Linked DNA regions of Homo sapiens. The protein of the gene in region 6 interacts with the protein of the main gene of each other region in a pairwise test. Each region holds a gene or a part of one and is shown on either strand. Other genes may lie near its edges. The genes, in order: TADA2A, STMN3, HEXB, PRKAA2, PEX26, MKRN3 and ZFP57.

Region 1 (3,500 bases), on a different chromosome or scaffold from region 6:
TTTCTGAATTCTATAAGGGCAGGGGACATGTTCTATTCATCCTTCAATTCCTAGCACCCAAGACAGTGTCATCACACAGTTGGCGCTCGATAAACATTTGACAAAATAAACTGTTACCATGTAAAATGTCCGAGTCATCTTCAACAAAATCAATGTCTCTCAAGTCCCATTCTGCATAATTGTCAAATTCCTGTTTAGGGGAACAAAAAAATCCCCACCCCAAACCCATCGGCTTTGATTAGTGTCTTTACAGCAGCCATGCTTTAGAAGTAAACAGAAAAAACACAAGCAAACAGTTGTTTAAAAAGTCTAAATATGGCAAAAGGCCACAATACTGGCACAGGTAATAGGAAGTCATGGGAAAAATCTAAGAGGCTTACAAGCAGTAGTGACAACAAAAAATTGGAATAGTTATGAGTTTAGGAATGAAGCTAAACATACTGCTCTAAAAACTAAAATTAGTCTGAGCTGGGCACAGTAGCATGCACCTATAATCCCAGCTACTCAGGAGATTTAGGTGGAAAAATCACTTGAGACCAGGAGTTCAAGACTGCCTGGGAAACAGAGCAAGAGCCTGTCTCTGAAATAAATAAATAAAGTCAATTCATTCTTTTTTTTTTTTTTTTGGAAACAGGGTCTTACTCTGTCACTCAGGCTGGAGTGCAGTGGTGTGATCTTGGCTCACTGCAGCCTCGAACCCCCAGGCTCAAGTGATCCTCTTGCCTCAGCCTCTCAAGCAGCTGGGTCTACAGGCATGTGCCATCACACTCAAGTTAATTTTTGGTTTCGGGTTTTTTTTGTTGTTGTTGTTGAAGAAACAGCGTTTTGCCATGTTGCCCAGGCTGGTCTCAAACTCCTGAGCTCAAGCAATCCGCCTGCCTCAGCCTCCCAAAGTGCTGGGATTTACAGGTGTAAGCTACCGCATTTGGCCAAACTATCTTTCAAGTTGTGAATTAGATGATAAATCAAGAGACTTGTGGCTACATTCACATGTCTTTTAATTCCATAGCTGAGCAAGGAACATATAGTTTTTATACACATTCATCATTCTTTATATACTTGTGGATATAGTACAGGAATCAGTAAACTACTATTCAGCCTACTGTCTGTTTTTGTACATAAAGTTTTACTGGAACACAGGCGTATTCATTTATTCTTATATTATCCCATGCTGCTTTAGCACAATAATGACAAAGTATAGTTACAATAGAAACTTTATAGCATACTAAACCTAAAATATTTACTATCTGGCCTTTAATAGAATAAGTTTGTCAACCCCTGATACAGTACAATCTTGAAAGCCCCTAGATGTACAATAAGAACCAGACTACAAGCCAGGTGCAGTGGCTCACGCCTGTAATCCTAGCACTTTGGGAGGCCGAGGCTGGTGGATTGCCTGAGGTCAGGAGTTTGAGACCAGCCTGGCCAACATGGTGAAACCCTATCTCTACTAAAAATACAAAAATTAGCCAGGCATGGTGGCAGGAACCTGTAGTCTCAGCTACTTGGGAGGCTGAGACAGGAGAATCGCTTGAACCCAGGAAGTGGAGGTTGCAATGGGCCAAGACCATGCCATTGCACTCCAGCCTGGGCAACAAGAGCAAAAACTCTGTCTCAAAAAAAAAAAAAAAGAACCAGACTATAGGAATTTCATACCTAAGGAAGTGGAAGCCAGCACTGATGCAACTTAAGAGGTGGGTTTGCTGGGGTTTTTTTGTTTTTTGGAGACAGGGTCTTACTCTGTTGTCTAGGGTGCAGTTTAGTGGAATGATCACCACTCGCTACAGCCTTAACCTCCCAGGCTCAAGTGATCCTCCCATATCAGCCTGCCAAGTAGTTGGGACTACAGGCATGCACCACCACACCCAGCTAATTTTTTATTTTTTGTAGAGACAGGGTCTCACTACGTTGCCCAGGCTAGTCTCGAACACCTGGACTCAAGCGATCCTCCATTCTCAGCTCCCAAAGTGCTGGGATTACAGGTGTAAGCCACTGAGCCTGGCCAGAAATAGGTTGTTTGTTTAAAGAATTTTTACTGTTCCATATGTGAAAATGTTTACAAATGAGAAAAGGCACTCAAACCTAAGAAAATGTGGCTGCCTAAAGGTCCTACAAATTATAGTGCCTTGAAAAATCTCCTTTTAGTGGTATGGAATCTATGGGTGAGACAGAAGGCTCATGAGAAACAAAAATGAATTTTTCCTACTTTGTGCTAAAAACACATTTATCCTACCTCAATGAAATCTGCTCGAGCTGGCATGTACCCGGCCATGTCCCGAGAAAGCAAGGAGTCAAAGGTAGGTCGGGGAGGGTCATCTGTAGCTGGAAGAATTTAGAAGGTTTCTGAGTTAACTAATACAATATTGGCATGAAAAAAATGACATAATAGTCCAAGAATAAATAAAATTTAAAATGGTTTTTATAAAAGGAAATGTGAAAAAGATAAAGTATTATGAAAACAGGTTTTTTAAAAAGAAAAACCAAGACTCAGGCAATCCTTTAAGTAAATATGGGGAAATTTCTTCTGATTTCTGCTTTCCTAAAATGAAAGGAAATCATGACTTTTTTCCTTTAATATTACAGAACCTAAATATTTACCGTTGGCTTCGGCTCCCTTATCCCTTAGGATGAACTTCAATTTACAAAACTCATCCAACTGAGAGGCAAAAAAAAAAAAAAAAAAAAAAGACGGGAAAAAAACAAACACTGGAATTGGAAGTTAGCTGAAATTAAGTCCTAGCTCCAACACACACTAGTCCCATGACCCTGCACAAACTAACCTGTCTGCATCGGTCTTCTCGAATGTAAAACAAAAGCACTTGCTCTGCCTATCTCACTGGGTTGCTGTTAGGAAACAAATGGTCTAATGGATTTGAGAACAAAGTGCTAACACCAAAGTGCTATCCAAATAGGAGGTATCAACCAGGCACGGTGGCTCACACCTGTAATCCCAACACTTTGGGAGGCCGAGGCGGGCAGATCATAAGGTCAGGAGTTCGAGACCAGCCTCGCCAACACAGCAAAACCTTTTCTCTACTAAAAATACAAAAAATTAGCCAGGTGTGGTGGCATGCACCTGTGGTACCAGCTACTCAGGAGGCTGAGGCACGAGAATCGTTTGAACCCTGGAGGTGGAGGTTGCAGTAAGCCGAGGTTGTGCCACTGCACTCCAGCCTGGGAGACACAGCGAGACTCTGTCTCCAAAAAAAAAAAAAAAGGAGGTATTACCAGCCTTTAAGTTAGTCAGCTATAAAACTGTTTCTAGAGAGTATGAGGAAAGAGAAAAGGGAAGTGAAAACATTCATATCTCATTACTTGTACCCTGAGAGTCATTCAGGAAAGATGGTCATTTATAATTCATCATGTTTTTGGTTATATTTTATTAAGAGACCCACTGGTCCCACACGCACATGAGATTAAAAAGTTCGCCATCACTGACACAACCAAGCGAACAAAAATAACAAACTGATTCTTGGGCTTGACACCAAGGCAATTAATAA
Region 2 (3,500 bases), on a different chromosome or scaffold from region 6:
GTGTGCACCACCACACCTGGCTAATTTTGTATTTTTAGTACAGATGGGGTTTCACCATGTTGGCCAGGCTGATCTTGAACTTCCAACCTCAAGTGATCTGCCTGCCTCAGCTTCCCAAAGTTCTGGGATTACAGGCGTGAGCCACCACACCCGGCCTCTCCCCATCCCATTCTTATCTCTCAGAAAGAGGCCCAGGGAGCCACAGCCCCTCCTGCTCCAGGCCAAGGCACTGACCAAGCCTGTCCGGGAGCACCCTGCTTCTTGCAGGCCCTGTCCCCGTGGGCCGCCTCCGTTGAAACTCCTGGGGGGTGGGGGATGGAGGACTCCTTGCCTTCCTCCGCTCCTCGGCTGCCTCCAGCCGCTTTTGCAGCTCCTCCAGGGAGGTGTCCTTCTTCTTGGGTGGGGAGGAGAGCATAGGGCTCTCTGGGGACAGGTCAGAAGGGGACTTGAGGATGACCTCGAAGCTCTGGCCTGAGGCCCGCTTGTCCAGCTGCTTCACCTCCATGTCTGCAGGGCAAGACCAGAGTAGAGCTTCAGAGGCCCGGCCAGGGCATGGCGTGGGCTGAGCGGGATGCTCCCAGCACACATCCAACCCCAGGGCTGGGCGAGAGGGGGTGGCTGCTCCCGCAGGAATCCCAGGCTTCAGCCCCCAGGATGGGCCCCTTCCCCCTAGAACCTCCCTCTCCAGAGGCAGCCAGGACGGGAGTTCAGAGAGACTGCCGGAGGCCGGGGGAAAAGGTGAGGTGGGCAGGCACCGCAGGGAAGGGCAGGCGGCAGCCAGGCACTCACCCCCGTACTGGTAGACGGTATTGGGGTGCGGCTGTGTGTAGAAGCAGGAGCAGATGAGCGACAGCACCGACAGCTCCTTCATCTTCTCCTTGTAGGCTGTGGGCACAAGGCTGGGCTGAGCAAGCACCACTGGGGCCTGCCCACCTGGGCCCCCGTTTTCCCTCCCCATGGCTGCCTCTATCATGTCTCTGTGAGACACGGAGCTGCCCAGCACGCTCTCTTGTGTGTCTCCACACCGCCGGCCCCTTCGTCTCTCCAGCTCTCTCGCTTCCAGACGTCGGCACTGTCTCCGTGGTGTGTCCCCTGCCTTCTGTCTCTCTCGCCCTCTGCCTCTCCCCGCTTTTCCTCTCTCTCGGCATTAATGTCTGTCTCATCTTCCACACTGACTTGTTTCTCCATCCTTCTCCTGCCTGCTGTGGTCTGAATGTTTCCATTACCCAAAACTCATGTGTTGAAATCGTAACCCCAAGGTGCCGGTGTGCGGAGGTGAGGCATTCGGAGGGAATTAGGCCATGAGGATAGAGCCCTCCTAAGTGGCCCCAGAGTGGGGCTTCAGAGAACTCCCTCACCTTCCATCATGTGAGGACACAGCCAGAAGACGCCACCCGTCTATGTACCAGGAGGCGAGACCTCTCCAGGCACCGACTCTGCCGGCACCTTGATCCTGGACTTTCTGGCCTCCAGAGCGATGGGAAATAAGTTCCTGTCGTCTATAAACCACTCAGTCTCAGGTACCTGCCCAGACTGACAAAGTGGCTACCCCTGCCTGTCTGGGTCTCTGTTTACCTTCTGTGTGTCTGACTCTGTCACTGTCATTGTATCTTTCTGTGTCTCTGGGGGTAGCCCCTGACTCTGTCTTTCTCCCTGAGTGCATCTTTCTGTGATTCCTTGTCACTGTGTGTCTTTCTGACTCTTACCTCCCTCTGTCCCGCTACTTCTCTCTCCCCTCCTCCTCCTTCCCACTCCTCGCCAGCTCAAGCAGGCAAGATTTACTCATGACGGGACCAGCACAGATGCAAACCCTCTGTGGGCAGGACTTTCTTGGGCTGTAAACCTGGATGAAGCCCTCAGACCCTCCTTTTTCCTTCCCAATGATTGTGTGGTCACCTTGAGATGAAACCAGGCCCTCTCCAGGCACATGCTCTCTGTCTATCTAGGGCTGGGCTTGGGCCACTGATGCCACCAAGGAGCAAGGGAGGGAAGCTGTCCGTTCAGCACCACAGCCAGCCCTCTTGCCCATTCAGGTCAATCAAGTGCCCACCAGCCAGTGTCCCTGCTGCCCAACCCAAACCAGAAGCAAGCCGGGCTCCTGTGGCCCTGTGCCCTGTCAGGGGAAGAGGAAGGCGCCTGCTGTCACAGTGAAAATAATTTAGCTCTTTTGGTCTATTCAGGGCGAACCTCATTCCTAAGCAGACACGCTGGCCCGGTTTCTCACTAGTGCTCGATAATCCTTTTGGCTGGGTGCAGTGGCTCATTTAACTGTAATCCCAGCACTTTGGGAGGCCAAGGCAGGTGGAACACCTGAGGTCAGGAGTTTGAGACCAGCCTGACCAACATGGTGAAACCCGATCTCTACTAAAAATATAAAAATTAGCCAGGCGTGGTGGCAGGCACCTGTAATCCTAGCTACTTGGGAGGCTGAGGCAGGAGAATCGCTTGAACCTGGGAGGCGGAGGTTGCAGTGAGCCGAGGTCGCGCCATCGCACTCCAGCCTGGGTGACAGTGTGAGACTCCGTCTCAAAACAGAAAGAAAAAGAGAGAGAGGAAGAAAGGAAGGAGGGAGGGAGGGAGGAAAAGAAGAAAGGAAAGGAAAGGAAGACAGACAAGGCAGAAGTAATCAAGCCTTTCATGGTGAGCTGGGTCTTCTGGTGACAGTGCAGAGAATGGTCTGTCCTGACTTAAATTTCCTGGTGACCTACACTTTTCTGGACAGAGCAGCACAGAGCCCAAGAGGGTGTAAGGAGGAGCAGAAAGGAATCCCAGGGTGGGCAGGCCCGTGCGAGAGCCTTTGGGGGAAGGAATGAGACTTTGAGCCGGGAAGCGAGGCAAAGCTACCTGTCTTGGTCATTGTCTTCAGGGAGGGAGATGGAGGGGGACCAGGTGGGGGAGCCTCACAGGGGACTTTGGTCTGACTTGTCAAGTTTTCTTTTTTTCTTTTTGAGATGGAGTCTTGCACTGTTGCCCAGGCTGCAGTGCAGTGGTGCGATCTCGGCTCACCGCAAGCTCCGCCTCCTGGGTTCACACCATTCTCCTGCCTCAGCCTCCCGAGTAGCTGGGACCACAGGCACCGCCACCACACCCAGCTAATTTTTTGTATTTTTAGTAGAGACGGGGTTTCACTATATTAGCCAGGATAGTCTCGATCTCCTGACCTCGTGATCCGCCCGCCTCGACCTCCCAAAGTGCTGGGATTACAGGTGTGAGCCACTGTGCCTGGCCTACTTTATTTTTTAGAAACAGGACTGTGCTCTGTTGCCCATGCTGGAGTGTAGGGTGCAGCTGTGCGGTTCACTGCAGCCTTGAACTTCTGGGCTTGACGGATCCTGCCATCTTAGCAGCTGGGACTACAGGTGCATGCCAGCACACCAGTTTTCTTTTTTTTTTTATCTCTGCTCACTGCAATTCCGCCTCCTGGGTTCTAGCGATTCTCCTGCCTCAGCCTCCCAAGTAGCAGGGATTACACGCACATGCCACCACACCCGGCTAATTTT
Region 3 (3,500 bases), on a different chromosome or scaffold from region 6:
GATTCTGTCTCAAAAAAAAAAAAAAAAAAAAGCGTCTCTTCTCCTTAGCAGACGCAGATGAGACAGGCAGATTGGACTAATAAAAGCTTAAAATCACTAATATTATACATAAATAAAATTACATTTGTAGTAAATATCTAGATATTTTCATATTCTATTTTGAATAAAATTATAATCTTATGGTATAAAATATATAGCATAACAATGATTATTTTAGGTAACACTCTGAGTCAGATTCCAAATCTTTATTTATTTTGTTTTTTGAGATGGAGTTTTGCTCTGTCACCAAGGCTGGAATGCAGTGGTGCCAGCTCAGCTCACTGCAACCTCCCTCTCCCAGGTTCAAGCAATTCTCCTGCCTCACCCTCCCAAGTAGTTGGGATTACAGGCATGCGCCACCATGCCTGGCTCATTTTTTTTTTGTATTTTTAGTAGAGATGGGATTTCACCATGTTGGCCAGTCTGGTCTCGAACTCCTGACCTCAAGTGATCTGCCTGCCTCAACCTCCCAAAGTGGTGGGATTACAGGTGTGAGTGACTATGATCAATCCCAAGCCTTTATTTTAATGACTAAGTTTGGTTAGTTCATGTTTTTTTAAATTCCCTTTCTAAAAACTCTGCTATTCGGAAGTCAGTACAGTATCTTATCTGCCTAGAAAGAAAGGTAAAAGAAACTTTTGAACAGCAAATGTCCTGAGGTCAAACTTTGAAGTTCAGACTCTGAAATTCTCATGAGAAGCTTTTCAAGTTACTCCCTGCCCACTGCCTCTAACCAACTCTATAGCATATTTGCCTTTTGACACTGTTCCTTATACAAACTTAGTTATGTTTCTAAATCTACAGGAATTTAAAATTAGGGAAGAGAGATGCTTGCTTCTGAAGTCAACAGAAGTGATAGCTGAAACAAAATTCCCTAATCAGGACAGGTTGGGGCCATGTGTAGTGCTATAAACATTACAGTCCCAAGAGCATCAATGAATTACAGCACTGCAGGAATGTAATAACCTTCAAACATTTTTTGAGAGGTCAAATGAGTTTTCTCCCATGCTGTATTTATTTATTTGTATTTTTTTGAGACAGGGGTCTTGCTCTGTTGCCCAGCCTGGAATGCAGTGGTGTGATCTAGGCTCGCTGCAGCCTCAACGTCCTGGACTCAAGCAATCCTCCCACCTCAGCCTCCAGAGTAGCTGGGACTATAGGTCCACACCACTATGCCTGGCTAATTTGTGTACTTTTTGTAGAGATGGAGTTGCACCATGTTGCCCAGGCTGGTCTCAGACTTCTGAGCTCAGGCAATCATCACCTACCTCAGCCTCTCGAAGTGCTGGGATTACAGGCGTGAGCCACTGTGCTGACCTCTCCCATGCTTTATGTAGTACATGTTCAATGGAAATCATTTTGGAACTACATAACAAAGCATTCTGTAAAGGATCTAAGGCGGCAAAGTTTTGCTGTGCTTAATTTCACAAAGCACCAACTGAAAATTTTCCTTTACTGGAAAGTAACAATGAAACTGCATGGAACTTACCTCGTAATGCTCCCCAAACTCTGTTGGCCTTAAGGACAGCCACTGGTTCTTTCACAAGTAAAGTATCTGTATTGAGGATTTAAAATCACACACACACTTTTGTTAATCCCTCAATGACACACAATAAGTTTCCTAAACATGTCATTGATATTTCTGGACTATTATTTTCTCCCAAGCACATGACCTATTTCTCTAACTGCCTCCTGTACATCTCCATTTGGATGTCCTGCAGGTTCCTTCGACTCCACATGCCCCAACAGAACTCTTCCCTCCCTCCTCCGCACACTTCAACCTGCTGGTCTTCTGTGTTCCTCATTTCAGTGAGTCACAGCACCACCATCCAGTCACTTGAGTCACTCAGAACGGGAATTTGGGTGTCAACTCCATGTTTCCTCATTTTCCTAAAAGAGTTAGTCTCTCCAACTTCTCCTCAACAGAGTAGGGTCCTAGTTAAGCTAAGAGTTTAGTTGAAAGTGCAAACATTCCTCAGTTCCTACTAATCCTTGGTAACGCCCTAGGTGTCGCTCAAATCTACTCCCTTTAAGGCCAGAGAGTATCTCCACTCTTTTGCATTCAGAATTTTCTACTTGCCCTGTACCCACCTTCCCTCAGTATCATCCAAATCTGCCTTAAGACTTACTCTCCAAATCCCTTTAGCTTAGTTCAGCTTTGTCTCACTCAATAAAAATAATTCAGCTTTGTCCCACTCAATTAAAAGTTCACATCATCCAGAATGGGACTCCAGTTAGCTGCTTCTGGTGAGAGGCTAATCTTTCAATCTTTGAAGCACACTCTAAGGTTGGCCCAATAGTCATTTAGTCTTTTAGAGAGGTCTGGAGTGGAATCAACCACATAGTAAACCCACAGATGGTAAAGAGATTGAAAGCTAAAGGGTGTAACAGCTTTGGACTTTGCCACGGCAAAGACACTGATGGGCTGGAGATTAATGATTTAATACTGTGTCCTCTGGGGTGGTTTATCACCTTCTACCACCACCACCATTCAGATGCTCACAGAATAGTTAGCTGCAGGTAGGCAAAAGTGCTCTATCAGTAGTGTGAGCATCTCAGGTGATAGTCTTCTGACAAGATAGCCTTTTCCATTAGATAACCACACTCCATTAGATGAGTTAGCCAATGCCAGGCTAAGAACTATATTGCTATTTATGAGCATAGTCTAATTATGTTTCCTCTACATCTATAGCAAATTCTTGTGTTGTTGTTGAGACAGAGTCTCACTGTGCTGCCCAGGCTGGAGTGGAGTGGCACAATCACGGTTCATTGCAGCCTCGACCTCCCAAGTAGCTGGGACTGTAGGCATGTGCCACCACGCCTGGCTAATTTTTCTCTTTCTTTTTTTTTTTTTTTTTTGTAGAGACAGGGTTTTGCCATGTTGCCCAGGCTGGTCTTGAACTCCTGGGCTCAAGCCATCTACCGGCCTCAGCCTCCCAAAGTGTTGGGATTACAGGTGTCAGCTACTGTACCCAGCCTGTATCAAATTCTTAATCAGCTACCTAGAGCTCACTGCTCCATTGGTCACTGTTTAAAAACATTTTTTTGCCACATTCTAGTTTTGAGATCTTCCAGAAATAGCACAGTCACCTAAAAAACATTAATATATTGCATATATTTGATACCAATTATTTTCTAATAGTTGACAACTGGCTGATATTAAACAGGACTGTAATTCAACTCAGTGGAAAATACATATAACAATTAGAAATTTGGTTTTCTAAATATATGGACACATAGCTATAGAATTTCCATTTTTACTTCACAACCAAGTTATTAGTGTTAACAATGATCACTTCCCTGAAGTGTGAAAGGAATTATATCATTGACTTTTCAGTTAGCCCATTCTGTATCTTTTTGCACCATAAATACATTTGTTTTGGAGGGTGAATATACAAATGACATATCTATATATTCTGTTTAAAAGCAATATAATATAGATAAGGCTAAAATCTCCTTTG
Region 4 (3,500 bases), on a different chromosome or scaffold from region 6:
TGAGACCCTGTCTCTACAAAAAAAAAAAAAAAATATATATATATAGATATATAAATACATACATTGTGAGAAACAGTAAAATGATTTTTTTAAAAAGAAAATGAAAATAACTTATACTTATCATATTGCCCAAGTAAAACAAGCATTTAGAAAAAAAAAAGTATGGTATATTTAAAAATGTTAGATCTATTGTTTTATGACAGTCAGTTTAACTTACCTTATAATTCATTTATAATTTAGAAACTGAGATGTTGAATAAGAACACACTGTTCTTGTTTTAATAGTATATATAATCTGAAGAAAAATGATTCTGAAAAAACAAAGTATATTAATAACATACTAACATTCAGAGTAAGAGACATATAGCAAGATTTTATAAATTATCTTTAATCATATAAAAGGCTGTTTAAAAAGATCTAATGGCAGATTAAAAAGAGAATTATGAATATTTTAAAAACAAAGGTACCACCCAAAGAAATACATAAAATTTATCAGAGGCAAACACTGCCAAACATAAGACACCACTTAAGCAAGAATACTGTTCCCTTGAAGGGGTGAAGAAGGCTTCTATTATTAGCAGAGATAACTGCCTGAAATTCTTTCCTTAATAACACCATACTAAAAATAAAAAGGTTCATCATATTTCAAAATAAACACATTGCTTTTCATACGCATTTCAATCACTTCAATAACAGATAAAAATAAAAGCCTGATTTAAGGTTTACATTTCTCTTATATTTGTAGTTGATAAATACACTAGGTAGATTTGCTCTCATTTTTATAACATATTTAATGCTTTAAGGGTCTTGTGCCAGCCACTTACTCATTATTTCTTAAAGGATTTGAGATTAGATCTTCCTGCTAGGTCAAATTAAATTATCTGCTTGGCTTCAAAAATTATTAATACTTCCTCTACAAAATATTTTCTCTATCATTTAGGAAACCACAGGAATCTCAGAAGAATAAATGGGGTGGTATTATTATTACAAAGCAGTACCAAATGCTTTCAAGAAAGCTAACATGGACCACAAGGTAAGTGGACATTTTGGGATGTTTTTACAAAAAGAAGCAAGATAAAGCATGGTTGTGTCAGCATGAAAAAGGGAGAAAGCTCATGGAACTGAGGTAATTACCTCAATATATGACCAAACTACAAAATCCTTTCTAATTTATATGGATATGTTAAGATAAAGTTTGGTAGAAAAGCATTTTTAGCTCAGAGTGTATTATCTGAACTGAAAATATATGTATAGCCTCATTTTGGTTCTACTACAAGTGGACCAGGACTTTAAAATGACCCATTCATACTAAATGCCATCTGCTGCCCACACTTTCCCCCTTCCCAGCTTATGCCTCTTTCCTCCAAGAGTTTCTATGATGGATACCATGGGATCTGGAATACATACATACATATATATGTATGTATACAAAATATATATAATGTGTTTGTGCCTTCCAAGTGATGCACAGAAGATGGTGAAAAGTGAGCAGCTTCTAGAGAATTACAGGTTTCTGAACACATTCATTTGCAGAAATAAGACCAGAGTAAAACAAGACAGGAGGTAGTGAATTCTTCCCTCTCTCTCATCAATAAATTTCTGGTCTCAGAACCAGATCACAGATTATTCTCATAGTTCAGCTAATTGTGGGTTTAAGTACATAATGGTGTCTACATACACAAAAGTACATAAGTACTTCTGAGTGCTTTTTCATCTATGTACATTTTCTCATGTACTTCTCACAACACTAGAAGAGAACATATGGTATTATTCCCATTTTTACAGATTGAGTTTGACCACATAGCTGGTTTATGACAAAACAAAGGTTCCACACCAGGTCTTCTAAGTTCAACATACTACAGAGAGTATTTATACTACATCAGGCTGCCTTTGTGGACATACTATGAAAATAGCTACCATTTATAACATTGTTTCCTATTTAAAATACCCTTTGAAAGTCAATCAACTGGCTACACCAAATGAACAAAATCCATTCAGATATTAAGGACACAATTCAAAAATCATATAAATTATATATATATTATATATATCTATATATATCAGCAAGAGAAACCTAAATAGCACGTATTTACCTAATTGTGAGAATAATTCAACTGATTTTAATTCAATCACTAATCTAGTATTTGAGAAGAAACATAATTTCATTATTTGGAACCAATATTTAACACTTGTTTAGAATTTGCATAATTTCAAAAGTAAAATCAATTTACTGTGAATGTGTGTACATTCACTTTTATTTAACTATTACTTCCATTTCATTCTTGTTTCATTCATCTTCCATATTTGGGAAAAAGCAAATTACATGACTTAGTCATACAGGATATTGTTTTTAATATAAACATTAATAAGTATCATAAAGCACAGATAAAGTAGTCATTAAGAGCTTTCTTCAACCTAGGCAACCACAAAATAGGGGCAGATTACTACAGCTCTATCTCAATGTTGGTGTGAGAACTGAAGGCATTTCAATGGAAAGTAAGTACTTTCTAACACAGGGTGCAGAATTTACCTACAATTGCCATGCATCTCACCATCTCCACAAGTGTCATCTATCTGTATAGCATTTTATCTTTTCCAAAGCCATTTTATATACCTCAACTCATTTGATCTTCATAACTATTCCAGAAGGTAGGCAGGACAAGTATGATCATTGCCATATTACGAAGGAGGAAACAAAGGCTCAGCATCTAATGGTTTTTCCCAAAGGTGAGACAACTGGTAGTAGAAATGGAATTAATTCCAGAGCTAATACCTTCTTATACCAATGTTTTCTTCTAGAACATCAAATCATTTGTACAAGTTCTCTTTAGTCTGGTTACTAAAGGTTACTGGCAATCACTAGTCAAGATTACCTTTATAGCCTGTAATCCCAGCACTTTGGGAGGCCGAGGCAGGTGGATCACAAGGTCAAGAGAGCAAGACCATCCTGGCTAACACGGTGAAACCCTGTCTCTACCAAAAATACAGAAAATTAGCCGGGTGAGGCCGGGCGCAATAGCTCACGCCTTTACTCCCAGCACTTTGGGAAGCTGAGGCGGGCGTATTACGAGGTCAGGAGATCGAGACCATCCTGGCCAACATGGTGAAACCCCATCTCTACTACAATACAAAAAATTAGCAGGGCGTGGTGGTGCACGCCTGTAGTCCCAGCTAGTCGGGAGGCCGAGGCAGTGGAATCGCTTGAACCCAGGAGGCAGAGGTTGTAGTGAGCCGAGATCGCGCCACTGCACTCCAGACTGGTGACAGAGCAAGATTCTGTCTCCAAAAAAAAAAAAAAAAAAAAAATTAGCCAGGCGTGGTGGCAGGCGCCTGTAGTCTCAGCTACTGGGGAGGCTGAGGCAAGAGAATGGCGTGAACCCAGGAGGCGGAGCTTGCAGTGAGCTGAGATAGCACCACTGCACTCCAGCCTGGGCGACAGAGCCAGACTAGTCTCAAAAAAAAAAAAAAGATTACTTTCATATCAGTAAACACACTGAAATC
Region 5 (3,500 bases), on a different chromosome or scaffold from region 6:
GCAGGGAGGAAGGGGAAGCTGCAGGGCAGAGGGAGACTACAGTGAACGTCCCACCCCTCTCACCTGTCACTCTGCCATCTCCCACCCTGGGAGACTCCACTACCAATTACACATAGTTGGTTTTGTTTTGTTTTTTTTAGAGACAGGGTCTCGCTCTGTCACCTAGGCTAGAGTACAGTGCAGTCTGTGTTCAGCTCACTGCAGCCTCAATCTCTGGGGCTCATGCGATCCTCAGCCTGCAGGTGCAGGTTCTCCTCCCCCACCATCATCACTCCAATGAGTCGGGCCTGCTGCTGAGGGTCAGGGCCACTGGGCCAGGCCCTTCTGAAGCAGCCTTGGAAAGAGCAGGCTCAAATGTCCTCATGCCATCCCCACTAGGAGACCAGGGTTTACGAGACTAAAGGGCTTACGGGAACCATAAAGAATCATAAAGAGTTTCTAAATCTGTATCAGTCAGGAGGTGGCCAGGGATGAACGCTGATGATACTGAGCATTCCGAGCGCTAACTCGTGACTTCTTTGTAAAGCAAACAGAGTCGTCCACAGGGGATCCCTGCTCAGCATTCAGCAGACGGGTTAGAAGGACAACTCTGAGCTATGTGACGGAAACCTCGCTGGCCAGGCATGATGGCTTGTGCCTATAATCCCAGCACTGTGGGAGGCTGAGGTGAGAGGATCACTTAAGGCCAGAAGTTGGAGACCAGCCTGGCAAACATGGCGAAACCCCGTCTCTACTAAAAATACAAAATGTAGCCTGGCATGGTGGTGTGTGCCTGTAATCCCAGCTACTTGGGATACTGAGGCAGGAGAATCGCTTGAACCCAGGAGGCGGAGGTTGCAGTAAGCCGAGATCACGCCACTGCAACCTGGGCAACAGAGCAAGACTCTGTCTCAAAAATAAAAATAAAAAATTAGCCGGGCATGGAGGCACATGCCTGTAGTCCCAGTTACTTGGGAGGCTGAGGAGAGAAGATCGCTTGAGCCTAGGAGGCAGAGGTTGCAGTGAGCCAAGATCACGCCGGTGCACTCCAGCCTGGGCAACAGAGAAAGACCCAGTATCAAAAACTAAATAAATAAAATAAAATAAAAATAAAAATAAATAAATAAATATTTTAAAAAAGCTCACTGAATAAGAGAAAGAGAAATGGGGAAACAGGGAGAATCTAAAGACTAAGTTAACAAATGGCACTTCTCAAAATAGACAAACCATTTGAAGGGACCAGTATAAGGGTTTCTGATTTCCTCTTAAATTTTGAAACTTATTTAATCATATTCTAAGTCTAAATTCATGAGAAGAGTAGAGATTAGAACATAACTCACACTGAGTAACACAAAAAAATCTAAAAGAGCGAGTGCCAAGTTTGGCTTCATGCACCTGAGGGGTCAATCCTCAGGAAATAACTGGGGTTGTTCCCAAATATCACTTAGGGAGCTCATTCCTTCTTCACAGCGAGGCAGAAAACAGAATAATCACCCAAATGTTCAATAATAGGGGTTGTTAAATTACTTAGGGGCATTCCTGTGAACTGGAATAGTTAGCGATTTAAGGCCATGCTTGAAAGCATATGTGTGACATGTAACTGCCTACAATCTCTATATCCATAGAAAAAGACTGAAAGCACAGCAGAGTAGCAGATTTCTATGCCCTTCTTTATACTTTTCTCTATTTTCCACATTTTTTTTTCTTTTTTGAGACAGAGTTTCGCTCTTGTAGCCCAGGCCAGAGGGCAACAGTGCAATCTTGGCTCACTGCAACCTCCGCCTCCTGGGTTCAAGCAATGCTCCCTGCCTCACCCTCCCCAGTTGCTGGGATTACAGGCACGCACCACCACACCTGGCTAATTTTTGTATTTTTAGTAGAGACGGGGTTTCACCATATTGGCCAGGCTGTTCTCGAACTCCTGACCTCAGGTGATCCACCCTCCTTGGCCTCCCATAGTGCTGGGATTACAGGTGTGAGCCACCATGTCCGGCCTATTTTCCACATTTTCTAAAATGTATGAGTTTTTCATTTACAACTTGCTTTGAATTAACACTTCATGAGACATTAATACTTGAATTAACACTTTTGTAGATATTCTGATGAGCGGAAGTTTTTTTGTTTTTTGTTTTTTGTTTTGAGACAGAGTCTCGCTCTATTGCCCAGGCTGGAGTGCAGCAGTGCGATCTTGGCTCACTGCAACCTCCGCCTCCCGGGTTCAAGCTATTCTCCTGCCTCAACCTCCCAAGTAGCTGGGACTACAGGCATGTGCCACTACACCTGGCTAATTTTTTTTGTATCTTTAGTAGAGATGGGGCTTTACCATGTTGGCCAGGCTGGTCTCGATTTCCTGACCTTGTGATCTGCCTGCCTTGGCCTCCCAAAGTGCTGGGATTACAGGCGTGAGCCACCGTGCCTGGCCAAGAGGAAGTTTTTTTAAATTCTGAGGTTCTAGTCAGAGTTCAGCCCTAGAAAAAGTGGAGGACTATGACTCAGTCCATGTTCAGGAGTCAGCAGGGCCAAGTGGACTTTCTCCTGGCTGCTCTCATAGACTCCAGGACTGGCCTCTCCTTATGGGTGGGGCTGGCTCATGCCCAGTCTAGCAATTCCTCCTTGTGGAACAGACTCAGGGGAAATGTCATAGGAGAGACTCCCCTCCCCAGTAGGACTCTGACAAACACCCACTCCCACAGGCCCAGCCCTGGCAACAACCCCTTCCCAGGAAGGACAGGGGAGAGTCTCCACCTCTTACCTGGATCAAATCTCACCACCAGGAGACAGAGGATCAAGGCAGCCAGGAGACTCTTTTTGAAGGGCAGAGAAAAGAAGTGGCTCACCGCAGAGTCCCAAAGCTGGCGAACCAACATCGGTAGTGACAGGAACTTGTGGGAGACAGAGCCTGGCCAGGGAGACAGAGCACAGCTTCAGGGATGTCATGGGAATCAGCTTCCCTGACCCCGACCTCTGTGCTTGCTTCTAAGACCTGAGCAGGCCAGGCGCAGTGGCTCATGCCTGTAATCCCAGCACTTTGGGAGGCTGAGGCAGGTGGATCACAAGGTCAGGAGATCGAGACCATCCTGGCTAACATGGTGAAACCCCGTCTCTACTAAAAATACAAAAATTAGCCAGGCGTGGTGGTGTGCGCCTGTAGTCCCAGCTACTTGGGAGCCTGAGGCACGAGAATCACTTGAATCTGGGAGGTGGAGGCTGCAGTGAGCCAAGATCGTGCCATTGCACTCCAGCTTGGGCAACAAGAGCAAAACTCCGTCTCAAAAAAAAAAAAAAAAGAGTTTAGTAAAAGGGTATTAGGTATTGGCTAAAGCCTTCATTCCTTAACTGCACATACTCTTGCAAATCTCATGAATATAAATTGTTTTCCTCGTGTTTATTACTTATTTTGACTATATATTATTTACTATATTGAATGCATCTTTGTAAAAGTTTTTTAAAACCTTTCAGAACCTTTCAGGCCAGGCGCAGTGGCTCATGCCAGTAATCCCAGCACTTTGGGAGGCCAAGGC
Region 6 (4,206 bases):
ATATTTTATTATTTTATCTTTCCATTCTTTTATTCTCATTGGTTTTAATATTTTTGTTCTATTTTCCCTTTTATAATCTTGTTACTTTTATGTTGAACTCTTTTGTCAAAAGCCCCTTGTTGGGAAAGTCTAGAGACTTTGTATATCAAATACAAAGCACTGTGCCTCTGAGCCTAGGATTTGCTGTTACAAAGAATTAATGAGAAGGTGGCTAAACTGCATAGGAAAACCATTTCTGTATTTATAGAGTAAGCTATTAATGCCATTGTAAGAATTACCAATATAGTGCTTTGTAAGTCCTCTAAGATCTGCATCTGTCACATTTGGCCAGACCCACTTGAACAGTCCTTTTCATTAGATGCTAATTACTGGCTTCTGTGCGAGGGACAGAAAGATTATTCACACAACTCACATCCACACAACAGCCAATCCTGTTAGGCTTTGACCTTCAGCTTTCAGCTCTGTATTTACTTTATTACATAAACATAAATATTATATTGTGATGTATATTCTTTTATATATTTTTTTCAAATACATAACTCTTATACATATATATTTTTATATATATAATTCTTAAATATATATTTCCAAATATAAATTATTTCATGTCAAGCTAAACAGGATAAAAACATGTAAACATATACACTTGGTTTTGGTCAAGTAAAACACAAAATCACAAGTTCATCACAGTTTAACAAGTGCACTTGAAGGGGAAGGAGGGAAAGAACAAACTGTAAACAAACAGATGAGCAGCTGCAAAGCCCTGCAAGGGTCCATTTGTTAAGGCTATTATAGCACAAAGCTACTAGTTCAATTAAAACTTCTCCTTTCACTCTGCCACATTTACTCTTGAGGGTCTTCAAAATAAGTGTGGAAATTCAGTAAACACTACACTAGAACTGAGTTAATCCTGTTGACAACAGAGATGACAAAAAAAAGCCATAAGCTGACATTAATATTAATTTCACCAAAACAGTAACTTTAAGGACTTATTTTTTAACACAGATAATCACCATAATCCTAGGGGGAAAGATATGCAGAATAGACAAGAAAACAGAAGCACTGCCTCAACAGCCCCTGAAAGCAGTAAGAGTGTCAACACAGGGAAAACAGGCAATAGCAGACGACAGAACCTCAGCAGACTAGACCACATGCCACAGCACGATGCTACAGAATCAAATTGAAATATTCTTCCAGCTCATAATGAAGCAAGTCCCACTGGTCCTCAGAGAAGGGTAACTCATCTCTCAGTGAAAGAAACCGCTTAAACAACAGACTGGCCAGCCGAAGCACGACAAGCTCCTTCTTAATGCTTTTATAGAGCATGTTGCCCTCTCCCATTCGCACAGGCTCCACAAGTTGATGCCAGTATGCGCTGAATGACCCACCACCTGGCCCAGGAGGCTCATCTCCCCAGCCCTCAGGGTATTCATGCTTGTAAAAGCATGTGTCTCCAAATGGGCAGTTACCCCTGCCTTCCGCAAAATACCTGCAGGCCTTGTTGCTCATTGCCTCCTTGTATTGCTGAATAAGTTTCTGCTTCTCTTCCTCCTCCTCCACCCAGAACTCACTGGGAATGACCAATTCAGAGGTGACCCTGCACTGTGGGCAAGACTTGACGATCCTGTTCTCAAACTGTCTGGCACTTCTCCACCTGCGGATACACCTAATACAGAAGGAATGGTTGCAATTGGAAAGAATGCCAAAGCGGCGGTCATTGGGGTTGGCCTTCTCATAGACAACCTCCATGCAGATGCCACACACCTTGTCCATACCACGCTGCACAGCAAACGAGAGTTCCATATCTTTCTCGTGTGCTTCAATGCAGGCCCTCATATGTTCTTCCCTCTGGGCAGCATCCATGGGGTGCAAGGTCTGCAGCCCACACATGTCGCATATGTCTCCATGGAGGTACATACAGCTCTCCCCACGAAAGCAAACTCCCCTGGAAGCATAATAGCAAAACCGCAACCCACTGCCCACAGCCATCTGCTTCCTCTCAGTCTCTGAGCTCTGTAGAGGAGCCTCGGGGGCAGATGCAACCCAGCGGCCCCGGTAGGGCTGCCCTGGAACAAACTCAATGGCATCCGCCCAGCTTTCTACACCTGCTCCTCCAGCAGCTCCACGGTCTGCATTGTCTCTCTCGGCTTCAAAGAAACCCCTTTCAGCAGCCGAGCCAATCACAGGCAAGGAAAGGGAGGATGCAGCCGGGGGGGCTTCCGCCACTTCCTGAGTCGGGGGCTCGATGTGCGCAGCCGTGCTAGGGCCTCCACCTGCAGAGGCCCCAGGCGGCGAAACGCCACCCTCAGTGGCCATCTTCCGACCAGAAAGGTCGTGCGAATAGCGACAGTTCTCCCCCTCCTTGCACTGCCCATGTATATAATACCTGCAGATGATCTGCTTTGTCCAAATGCCGCTGCTTCGGCTTGGCAACGGACTGGGCCAGGCTCCTCCTCCTGAGGCTGGGGCAGGCCTCAGGCCTCCTCTGCGGAGGTGGGCAGGGACTGGAGCTACAGGGAAGGGGGCCCAGCCCCTTGCCGCATGTGGCAGGGCTGAATCTGGAGCAGCAGATTCCCCGGAGGGCTCACAGACGGGAAGGTCCGGCCCAGACACACCCTCCCTTGCTGCCTCAGCACCTGCCTGGGCCCCGGCTGCCTCGTGGGCTTCTGAGGGAGCTGCAGGCTCTTCCATGGCTGCTTTGGCACCCCGAAATGGTGCCAGAACCTCTCCGGTATTTTTTCTTTATGGGCTTGAGGCCCGGAATGGCGGCCGCGCTCGGAGGCTTCTCTGGGGGAAGTGTGCATCTCTTTTTCCTTCCCCCCTGCTTTTGGGTCCCTCTGACTGTGTGTTCCTACCTACTTCCGGGCACAGGCAGCATGGCGGACACTTCCTGTGGGGGCAACGTACGTGCTCTGCCTGGTTTTTACCGCAATTTTCCAATCTGACATATTTTTTCGTTCACACAGGCGGGGACCAACCCAGCCCCTTTTGTCTGCCTTCTGCCTCTGCTTCGCTGTGTTCCGGCAGTCCCTAAGTCCCTTCTCACACGATTTCCTCAGGAGAATGAGGTTTTACTTTAATCTCTTCTGGTTTCGGTCATGCACGCTTCGTTGTATTTTCGTATCTGTCTGCCTTAAAAAAAATATAATCCTATAGATTCTGAAACATTTCATCCATGAATTATATAAATTCTTTTTTTATTCACTCCATCTTATGTCTGTGGTTTTTTTCTTTTAATGCCCGATCGCGGCAGGAAGCTTTTTTCAATTCGTTCGGTTGACAAGGCGCCGTTTCTTTTGGTCTTTGTTTTCTGGGATTTCTGAGGGCTTACACTGGATACGCTTTTCACCAGCAAGGCATTAGCAGAGAGCACTTCTGATCCGAGGCTAAGTTAGCACCTTTCAGATGTCTTTCTTTATTGTGATTACTATGCTCATTTTCCCACTGTGTTAGAAGCGCCAGACTTCAACCAGTCCTGATGCTGGCCTAATAAGACACTGTCCCCTGCATGACCCAGGCTTTTATTTTCTCTACTGGTTTAATTCATGGCAGCCCTTTGTTTCCCTTCCTTTCTTTCAACCCCATCTGTGCTGTGTTGTGGCAGGACAGCCTTTCATAACATATCCTGTGCCATATTATCCACAAAGGAATGGTCTTTAATTTCCATGTATGAGCGTTTTGTCATTTTTGCAGATAAATGTAGTAGATTAATCATTTTTTTGTATTCCTACTTTGCTGAGAGTACGTATCATGACTGCATACTGAATTCTGTTATGTAGTTTTATACATTTTTTGAGACAATTTTGTTTTTCCCTTTATTCTCTTAATGTGATTATTTGCAGCTATGAGTTTCAAATATTTAACTAACCAATTTGTTTCTAATAAGAAGCCCTTCTGTCATGATATATCATTTTATATATTATTGGATTTTTTTTCTATAAGTTTCTTTGAGGAAATTTTGTTGCCTAAATCTGTAAAGTGGAAACATATCTGAATATTTATAATCACCCAAGTCAACAAATTAAATTATAATTAAGTAGGTAAAAGCAATGAAAGCAGAATGAAGCAAATAATAAGGGCAAGAAAAGCAATGAAGAAAAACAAATATTAAATAAGGGAAATAAATTAAGTAAAATCCCTTAAACTGCTTATTGAAGCCAGATAATTTCTGGTGAAATTTATCAAGGAAAAATGAAGAAGGCTCTA
Region 7 (3,085 bases), on a different chromosome or scaffold from region 6:
GCTTGAACCCGGGAAGTGGAGGTTGCAGTAAGCCAAGATTGTGCCACTGCACTCCAGCCTGGCAACAGAGCGAGACTGTGTCTCAAAAAAAAAAAAAAAAAAAAAAAGAGAGAGAGAGAGAGACTTGGATCTTCAACTTGAAGTCAAGGGACTTGAGCCTATGATATTAAGCTCTCTTTCAACTCCAAGTCTGACCAGGCTGGACAGAGGTACACTAGGAGAGCATCTATAGAGCATTCATCCTCTTCATCAGCTCTCCATCCTTTCAGGGGTTATCCTGGGCCCTTTTCCCCTTCCTCCCTGCTTGGCAATTCTTACCTGAAAGGCCTTCTGTGTTTGGGAGATGGACAAACTCTCTCCACTGTTCCTCTTCTTGCTCAAGCTTGGTGATTAGCTCTGGCTTATGCAGAAAGATTCTGGCTGATGTGTGGGAATGAGAAAGAGTTGAGTTGGTCCCAGGTATGGCCCCTTCACATCTGATGGGGACAACAGGCTACCTCCTGTAGCCTTTGTTTAAGAACCATAACCTGGGACATGTAGATGCGGAAAGGAGACATTAAAAGGCCAGCTGCTAGCAAAGTACCTGGTTCTCAGGAGTGACTTAGTAAATATTTGTTTGATGAATGGAAAAATTTGCATATTTTGAGAACACTGTCATCATGTTACAAGTGTTATCTTTGCCTTCATGCAGGCTATCATTTCTTCTCTTTACCACTGAGCTTAGTGACTCAGATCTTTCACACCTGGAAAGCATAGAACCAGGGGTCAGTGAAACTAATTGTAAGCTGATCTACCTGTCCAGGGAAACCAGATGTTCCAGGGCCCTTAGGACAGGGGGCTTGCTGAGGGAAGCCCAGCCTCTTACCCACAGATGTTAGATTCTTAAAGGTTTCCGACATAACATCCTGGTAAAGGACCCTCTGGCTGGCATCTAGACAGTCCCACTCTTCCTGGGTGAAATTCACTGCCACATCCTCAAAGGTGACTGGCTTCTGGAAGAACAGGAGAGACTCAAGAAGTTTATATAAATATATATGTGTGTGTGTGTGTGTGTGTGTACAAGATTAACATCCAGTCTCAAGATTCAGAGAATTAAAACCTAAGAGAAAGATAAAACCATGGAAGGAAGAGAGAAATATTAAAAGACAGACACAAGGCCAGCAACTGTGAAGTATAGAAAGGAAAGGAGGCCGGACGCGGTGGCTCACGCCTGTAATCCCAGCACTTTGGGAGGCTGAGGCAGGCAGATCACGAGGTCGGGAGTTCGAGACCAGCCTGACCAATATGGTGAAACCTGGTCTCTGCTAAAAACACAAAAATTAGCTGGGCATGGTGGCGCATGCCTGTAATCCCAGCTACTCAGGAGGCTGAGGCAGGAGAATTGCTTGAGCCCGGGAGGCAGAGGTAGCAGTGAGCCAAGATCGCGCCACCGCACTCCAGCCTGGGTGACAGAGCGAGACTCCGTCTCAAAAAAAAAAAAAAGAAAAAAAAAAAAAGGAAAGGAAAGATGAAGAGAAAGGGAGAAAGATAAGATGTGGGGGAGAGGAAAGAGGATATGCAGATATGCAGAATATAAACAGGAAAGCAAAGCGAAGGAAAAAATGCTGCCACTCTAACAAATTTCAGGAAGTACTCCATGAAGGATGCCAGGATGGTGCGGGAGATGGAGAAAGGTCTTGCAGCTCCTTTTTCTGGATGTCGTTCAGTCTGGAACAATCTGAGATTTCATTTGACCTGCAGGCAGGAGTATGTATGAAAGAGCTCCTGGAGTCCAGGACCTGGACCCCACCTCTCTCTAGCTTAGTCTCCTCACCTTCTTCACCCGTGCCTCCCTCCAGCAATCTCTCTTCATGGCTTCCTGCAGGGTGGCAGCTACCTCGCCCACCCATGGGAGCGTCTTCTGTACAGGTTCGATTGGCTTCAGCTGTTCAAACATCTTCTCTTCTGTGGTGTCTCTTTCTAGCTTTATCCACTCCTGGCCTGGTGCCCAGGCCTGACTGGATTCCTTCCTGGGGCTATCTACCTCCCAGTAACTGGGCAGATGGAGAGGCCCAGCAAAGGCCCCAGGGTTTGATGTGGCTTCCTGTGACAAATGTATCTGCTCCAAGAGGCTGTCTTCCTTTTTTGTTCTGCTGTCCAAATTCTCCTCTTCCACAATTGAGAACAATTTTGCTTCCCTCAAAGCTGGGCCACCGAGTTCAGGGCCCTGGTCACCCTTGGCTCACCAGCTGCCATTGTTTAGTAACAACACCAGCCTGGGCTAGGTGTCTGCCGTCTGTTCTACCCTGCTTCTAGAAACCTGAGGTCAGAGAAAAACAAAACATATCAGCAAGAGGGAGGGTAAGAAACAGCTTCCTTATTTGGTCAGGGAATGCCAGCAGTTACTAAACCCCTACAGTGTGCCACTGGATGCTCTCAGCAATGAGGTAACAATTACTGGCCCTGTCTTAAGGACCTAATGCAGAGATGCTAAATAATTTTCCAAGGACAAGTGGACATTCTTGATCTACAAAAGTTAATGTTTAAACCTAATGTTAATGTTAGACTCAGTACCATTGGAAATCATGTAGCTGGGGTAACCAGGCTAGGATCTGTCACAGATCACCTCGAGTGAGTCTCTTTATTCTTTCTGACTTGGTTTCATCAGAAATGTGAGAATAAAGGAGACACTCTCTAAGATCTCTTCCATGACCAAAATTATACACACACACACACACACACACACACACAATTCTGTGATCTGGATTTTCAATACATGTAGTAGTTCCCCTTTATCATGGTTTTGCTTTCCAATGCTTCAGTTACCCATGGTCAACCATGGTTCAAAAATATTAAATGAAAAATTCCGGAGGACAGGCACAGTGGCTCACACCTGTAATCCCAGCATTTTGGGAGGCTGAGGTAGGCAGATCATCTGAGGTCAGGAGTTCGAGATCAGCCTGGTCAACATGGTGAAACCCTGTCTCTACTAAAAATACAAAAAGAAAATAGCTGGGCATAGTGGCACACATCTGTAATCCCAGCAACTCAGGAGGCTGAGGCAGGAGAATCACTTGAACCCTGGAGGTGGACGTTGCCATGAGCC

Evidence for each region.
Region 1: the proteins of MKRN3 (region 6) and TADA2A interact in binary tests that used the Homo sapiens proteins (3 or more experiments, as listed by UniProt).
Region 2: the proteins of MKRN3 (region 6) and STMN3 interact in binary tests that used the Homo sapiens proteins (3 or more experiments, as listed by UniProt).
Region 3: the proteins of MKRN3 (region 6) and HEXB interact in binary tests that used the Homo sapiens proteins (3 or more experiments, as listed by UniProt).
Region 4: the proteins of MKRN3 (region 6) and PRKAA2 interact in binary tests that used the Homo sapiens proteins (3 or more experiments, as listed by UniProt).
Region 5: the proteins of MKRN3 (region 6) and PEX26 interact in binary tests that used the Homo sapiens proteins (3 or more experiments, as listed by UniProt).
Region 7: the proteins of MKRN3 (region 6) and ZFP57 interact in binary tests that used the Homo sapiens proteins (3 or more experiments, as listed by UniProt).

The regions. Positions count from the first base shown.
Region 1 is NC_000017.11:37,441,386-37,444,885, reverse strand, and holds part of TADA2A (transcriptional adapter 2-alpha), read right to left. Parts: intron 2,323-3,500; coding exon 2,234-2,322; intron 191-2,233; coding exon 118-190; intron 1-117. UniProt on the Homo sapiens protein: Component of the ATAC complex, a complex with histone acetyltransferase activity on histones H3 and H4. Required for the function of some acidic activation domains, which activate transcription from a distant site. Binds double-stranded DNA.
Region 2 is NC_000020.11:63,643,425-63,646,924, forward strand, and holds part of STMN3 (stathmin-3), read right to left. Parts: intron 886-3,500; coding exon 790-885; intron 508-789; coding exon 332-507; exon of another isoform or gene 235-331; intron 1-234. UniProt on the Homo sapiens protein: Exhibits microtubule-destabilizing activity, which is antagonized by STAT3.
Region 3 is NC_000005.10:74,691,733-74,695,232, reverse strand, and holds part of HEXB (beta-hexosaminidase subunit beta isoform 1 preproprotein), read right to left. Parts: intron 1,595-3,500; coding exon 1,529-1,594; intron 1-1,528. UniProt on the Homo sapiens protein: Hydrolyzes the non-reducing end N-acetyl-D-hexosamine and/or sulfated N-acetyl-D-hexosamine of glycoconjugates, such as the oligosaccharide moieties from proteins and neutral glycolipids, or from certain mucopolysaccharides.
Region 4 is NC_000001.11:56,651,814-56,655,313, reverse strand, and holds part of PRKAA2 (5'-AMP-activated protein kinase catalytic subunit alpha-2), read right to left. Parts: intron 1-3,500. UniProt on the Homo sapiens protein: Catalytic subunit of AMP-activated protein kinase (AMPK), an energy sensor protein kinase that plays a key role in regulating cellular energy metabolism.
Region 5 is NC_000022.11:18,084,490-18,087,989, reverse strand, and holds part of PEX26 (peroxisome assembly protein 26), read right to left. Parts: intron 2,879-3,500; coding exon 2,732-2,878; intron 19-2,731; coding exon 1-18. UniProt on the Homo sapiens protein: Peroxisomal docking factor that anchors PEX1 and PEX6 to peroxisome membranes. PEX26 is therefore required for the formation of the PEX1-PEX6 AAA ATPase complex, a complex that mediates the extraction of the PEX5 receptor from peroxisomal membrane.
Region 6 is NC_000015.10:23,564,268-23,568,473, reverse strand, and holds MKRN3 (E3 ubiquitin-protein ligase makorin-3), read right to left. Parts: upstream 2,801-4,206; 5' UTR 2,692-2,800; coding exon 1,168-2,691; 3' UTR 430-1,167; downstream 1-429. UniProt on the Homo sapiens protein: E3 ubiquitin ligase catalyzing the covalent attachment of ubiquitin moieties onto substrate proteins.
Region 7 is NC_000006.12:29,675,068-29,678,152, forward strand, and holds part of ZFP57 (zinc finger protein 57 homolog), read right to left. Parts: intron 2,300-3,085; 5' UTR 1,937-2,299; coding exon 1,814-1,936; intron 993-1,813; coding exon 866-992; intron 421-865; coding exon 319-420; intron 1-318. UniProt on the Homo sapiens protein: Transcription regulator required to maintain maternal and paternal gene imprinting, a process by which gene expression is restricted in a parent of origin-specific manner by epigenetic modification of genomic DNA and chromatin, including DNA methylation.